2 separate regions of the Homo sapiens genome follow, and region 2 is linked to region 1. The links come from fine-mapping of genetic effects on gene expression. A gene starts in region 1. The other region holds a variant in brackets. All regions are shown on one strand. Distances are from middle to middle.

Evidence for each region. PIP is the estimated chance that this variant, and not a neighbour inherited with it, causes the effect.
Region 2: its variant is fine-mapped to the expression of OSGIN1 in whole blood (TOPMed, PIP above 0.99).

What each region holds. Positions count from the first base shown.
Region 1 is chr16:83,952,037-83,954,536 of GRCh38, reverse strand. It overlaps OSGIN1 (oxidative stress induced growth inhibitor 1), which reads right to left and starts at 1,297. Exons shown (of 6, transcript NM_182981.3): 1 at 1,167-1,297. RefSeq lists an enhancer at 1-484 and a silencer at 973-1,022.
Region 2 is chr16:84,028,022-84,031,029 of GRCh38, reverse strand. It overlaps SLC38A8 (solute carrier family 38 member 8), which reads left to right. Exons shown (of 11, transcript NM_001080442.3): 6 at 1,479-1,536. Among named protein-coding and RNA genes, the nearest start is that of SLC38A8, 13 kb to the left of the region's middle. The variant C/T (reference allele first, on the strand shown) is at 1,215.

The sequences.
Region 1 (2,500 bases):
GAGTTCAAAAGTTTCATTTCAATTCCTTTTGTGCTTTTTAGTTTTACGGAGTTGGAAGAATCAATTTTTAATGTTATCTTTTTAAGTCCCTTTAATTGAAGATGGCAGATGTTGATGGAAAGAAGTTAACATTAAAAATTGATGTTTCAAATTTCACAAAGGCAAACAGGATAAAAGAAATGAAAACAGTTGCACCTTCGACTGACGTTTCTTTCAAGTGTGCGGCATTTGTACTTCTGAGGTTGTTAAAGCTGCAAACTGCTCTGAGACTCTGGGACACCTGTATGTCTGCGTTTCTTTGGCACCTCTAGTGGCCATTTACTCCTTTGCCTTTGAAGACACCCCAGGAGGTGGGTGTTCTTATCCCCATTGTGCAGAGGAAGAAAAGCTGGTCAGGAGGAGTGGGCGTCTTGCCCCAGGTCACCTAGGAGGGTCCAAGACCACGGCCATGTGACAAATCTTAGTTCTGCCAAGTCCCCTCCAGTAAAACAGCTGATTACAGGGAGACCAAGAAAGTGACACGAAGCCCTGGGGGCGCTAAAGTGTGAGGGGGTGGTCTGTCCACGCAAGCGGCACTTGCCATTTATCACAGACGAGCCCTCGCCCCAGTGCCGCACACCTGGAGCCCAGGGTCTCCTGCAGCTCCCCAGCCTCCCAGGGGCCGCCCTCCCAACCCGCCGCACTCTTGAGCCTCCTGAGAGAAGCTAAGTCGCTGGGACCTCCAGGGATGGGGGCTGTTCATGGGCACCCAAGGGCTCTGTCCCTCCTGAGCAGGAGAAGCAGAAACCCAGAAGGCACCCAGCCTGGCTGCCGACCCAGTGGCCTTGGAACAGCTGGGCAGTAAGCCCGGGCTGGCCACACCCCTCTTTCCTGCTAGGAGCGGCGGTCACATGGCCCAGGGTACGCTGGGACTGTGGCCGCTTCAGCTGCTTGGCTGAGGGTACCAGGCACCTGGACAGGGACACAGCTGAGGATCTGGGAGGAACCTGGTGTAGGGGAGAATCCTGCCGGGCTCCAGAGAACCCAGGCGAGGGCCTCCACTCAGGACCACCCGGGACCCCCGCCTGGCGCCAGGGCTCTGCAGACCCTCCGGTCCAGCTGGGCTTGCCACGGGTGCCTGGGATGTGCCTGATTCCCTGCCCCGGAACCTGGCCCCGGACACTCACCTGACAGGCAGTGGTGCAGGAGCCCAGTGAGCCCGGCCAAGTTGTGCACTAGGAGGGTCAGGGGAACACGGATCACAGAGTCCCCCGCGAGATCGGGACACCCATTACCCTGTGGGGATCCAAGAGGCTCTGAGAGGCCAGAGGGAAGTGAGGGTATTTCACGGGGAGGGAGGAGGCGGCGCAGGCAGTGGGCGGGGCCAGGAAAATCACTTTCATAAGCGTGAGTCAGCAGGGGCCCGTGATGAATGAACTTGCACACTGGGCGGGTGTCACGCTGCCTGCCTCATGGCCAGCCTTAAAGGGCCCCTGCTGGGCGGCCTGCCAGGGGGCCTAGGGTGGCGCTCCCTCCCAGCCACCTCCCCCTAGCCAGACCCCCATCCCTGGGGCTCAGTCTCTGGAGGAGGAACCAGTGACCTCTGAATGAGCCAGCCTGGCCTTTGCCATAAGCGAAGAGGAGATGGCTTTGTCCCGCACACAGTTAAAATAACAGTACCTTTAAGTGGCGAAACCCCGTCCAGTTCCCGCATTCCACCTGGATTTCACTGCACCCTCCAATCCCCAAAAGCCCTCTGGCACCAGCCTGCCTGGGCTGCGAATCCAGCTTTGCCATTTCCCAGCTGCAGGGCTCTGGCAAGCTGCCTTAGGGCCCGCACCTCAGTTTCCTCATCTGAAAACTGGGGCCAAGTCACAGATTGTCTCTACCAGAGTGGCCGTGAGGGTTTACATGACATCCTTCTTGTCTGCCATGCTTAGAACTTGAAGCCTGCTCCCAGGCTCTTCTCTCCTGTTTTATGTGGGTAGCACTGCACACCCCACACCTTGCTGTTTCTTAATTATTATTATTTTGAGAAGGAGTTTCGCTCTTGTTTCCCAGGCTGGGGTGCAATGGCGCGATCTCGGTTCACTGCAACCTACGCCTCCCGGGCTCAAGTGATTCCCCTGCCTCAGCCTCCTGAGTAGCTGAGATTACAGGCATGTGCCACCACGCCCGGCTAATTTTGTATTTTTGGTAGAGATAGGGTTTCACCATGTTGGCAAGGCTGGTCTCGAACTCCCGACCTCAGATGATCCGCCCGCCTCAGCCTTCCAAAGTGCTGGGATTACAGGCGTGAGATGCCACACCTGGCCTATTTCTGAATTATTTTATTGTCTCTCTTCCCAAACCAGAATGTGAGCTCTGTGTGGGCAGGGAAGTATATTCGTGACTGCTCTACACAGTGTCTAGAACAGCGCTTAGGACACATAGGCACTCAACATCGGTTAAACAGAAGGGAGGCAGGGAGGGAGGGAAGCAGGGGGGGAAGGAGGGAGGAAGGCAGGGAGGGAGGGAAGTA
Region 2 (3,008 bases), 76 kb before region 1:
ACCCTTTTTATTCTGTTCTGTGGTCCTTGGGAGCCAGGGGCAGCAACAGAGACCAAGTGGGAGGCCTCTGCCTAGATCCCGGGTCCCAGACCTGGTGGCTTCAGAGGAGGCAATGAGGAATAGTCAGACTGGATATGCTTGAGATCGGATTTCCCAGTGGCAGGGCTGGCTCGTGGGTGTGCGACCCCTACAGTCACCCAGGCCCCATGCTCAGTGTACCCTTCTGATGTCACTGTCTTAAAATCCTTAATCCTTGTCCAACAAGGGTCCCCGCATATTCCTCCTGCACCTGGCCCTGTGAATTCTGTGGTCAGTGCTGCTGGTGGGTTGGAAGGTGAGTAAGAGAGAGAAGAAAGTCAAGGTAACTTGGAGCTCTCAGCTTGAACAGTGGGAAGGATGGAGATGCTGTTTCCTGGATTAGAGAGGACTGAGCAGGGCGGGTCCCTGGGAGCAGCTCAGGCTGGAACAGTCAAGGTAGAGCCGACCTGGAGACATCTAAGAGGGAAGTCAAGCAGCTGGGCAGGTCTGTGTGTCTGAAGTTCAGAGAGAGAGGTCCGGGCTGGCAGGAGAAACGTGGCTGACGTTGGCCCAGACATGGCATTGAAGGCTGTGAGTGCTGAGATCTGTACACTGAGCCGGTGGTACTCTAGCACAGGCAGGTCGAGGGGATGAGGAGGCCCTGGTAAAAACAGGAGGTGATGAGTTAGGATATGTGAGTGTCCGAGGGCTGTTGTGACAAGTGATCAAAGTGTGGTCAGGCCATGCTCCCTCCGAAGACTCCAGGGGCAGATCTTTCCTGTCTCTTCCTGCTTCTGGGGGCCGCGGCGATCTGTGTTCCTTGGCTGATAGACGGATCACTGGGTCTTGGCCTTCATCCTCACACCATGTTCTCTCTGTCTGTTTTCCCTTCCAATAAGGGCAGCAGGCATTGGATTCAGGCTCACCCTAATCCACCATGACTTCATCTTACTTTCAGTAATTACACCTGCAAAGCCTGTCAAAGGAAGCTGTGAACCAGGCGGGGATCCCAAGAGGCTGGACCTGGAGGTTCTCCCCACGCAGACCTCTGTCCTCTTAGGTGGCTTGGACAGAGCTCAAACCATCCTTGTGCTATTTGGGATCACTGGGTGGATGCTCTGGGTGCCCCCGCCCCTGCCAATTACCAAACCGCACTGGGAGCCAGCAGCCTTCAAGAGGGAAGTTGGGAGTTCCTA[C/T]TGCGGTTTTCCTGCCCAAATTCTGCCCACATGTAAAATGTCATGTTACCAAATGTCAGCAAAGACGTATTTAGAAAGTGCAGCATTTAGCCAGCATCCTTTTCCATTTCCAAAAGCCCGGTCACGGACACAGTCATTAAAAATACATCTTGCAGCCATGCTCTGTTACATTTTCCCAGCATCCTTTAAAATTCACCATTGCAGCCGCAGGTTGTTCCGGGTGTGACCCTTCTTTAATAAACTCCTGTTCTTGTCTGTTTACAGCCCTGCCTCCTGGACCTCTGTGTTCAGTGTCTTCCCCACCATCTGCTTCGGGTTTCAGGTAATTTTAGCATCTGTGTTGCAGCCTGTGGCGTTTGCAGAGGCTGTGGGTGACTCTCTGCTCCCTTGGGAAACCTTGGTTTCTCTGTCAGGGAGGCGTCTGAGGACTTCTCCTAGGATACAGTGGGCTCTGTGCCGCCCACCTGTGGTTCCCAGGCTGTCATTCCAGACCATGAGGATGGGTTGGTGTCTGGGCTCAGGGAAGTGGGAATTGCCTTGAACTTGGGAATCCAGCCCCCACTGATGGCCAAAAGCAGCACCATGTTTTTTAGGTTTCGCGTAGAGTGTGGGGACCCGGGACCTGTCCCTTCCTCTGCAGAACCCCCACAGGACTGCAGTCAGACCTGAGGCCTGGAGGCCTAAGCTGCCCACCTAACTCTGGCAGGACAGTTTTACCCAGGTGGACTCTGCCCAGGGCCTTGGGCAGGAAAGATCCTGCCTCCTGAGGGGTACAGGGTAGAGGAGCTGGAAGGTGTACAGGGAGCTGATTGGAGAGGGGAAAGGGGCAGAAATACAGAATTTTTAATAGAATGTCATGGGAGGGAGGACGGGGCTATATGTGTAGAATCCTGGCAGAGGGGCAGAGTCAGAGGTGTCCGCTCAAGGTGGTGGGGTTTGAAAGGGATCTTGAAGGATGTATGGGCAGCAGCCAGGTGACTGGAAGCGCACCCCAGGTAGAGAGGACAGCACAGGTGGGATAGCATAGGTGGGTCACCGATGTGAGCGGGCCCCAGGCACAGCTGGAGAGAGACCTGCAGAGGGCTCTGTGGCACAGCGCTGGGGGGAAGGTGGCGGGGCAGGGGGGGCAGGGGAGGTGGCGGGCCTGGGCTCAGTCCTCTGCTTCTGGGCTGTCATGGGTTCCCGCAGCCCTCCTAGCAGGTGGAAGCAGACACTGCTCTTCCATTTCTTTCTTTTTTTTTTTTTCTTTTTTTGAGTTGGAGTCTCATTCTTATTGCCCAGGCTGGAGTGTAGTGGATCTCAGCTCACTGCACTGCACCTCCTGGGTTCAAGCCTCCTGAGTAGCTGGGACTACAGGCGTGCACCACCATGCCTGGCTAATTTTTTTTGGTATTTTTAGTACAGAGGGAGTTTCACTATGTTGGCCAGGCTGGTCTTGAACTCCTGACGTCAAGCGATCTGCCCTCCTCGGCCTCCCACAGTGCTAGGATTATAGGCGTGAGCCACCGTGCCTGGCCACGCTGCTTATTTTCGGGAAGATTTGCCTCGATGTCCTAAAAACAACCACCTATCCACTGCCTACCACCAGCACCAACAAAACCATTCCAAAGTAAAATCAAGTCCACAGGGAGATGTGTCCAGGGTTTACCACCGGATCTCAGCTTTGTAGCCATTGAGCTCGTCTCTTCCCTTGACCATCAGTGAGCTCTGCTTCTGTTCTTCATCTTGCCTTTTCTTTGAGAACCCTTTTTAGGAAAAAAAAAAAAAAAATCTTGAAACATTTCCATTTCTCTT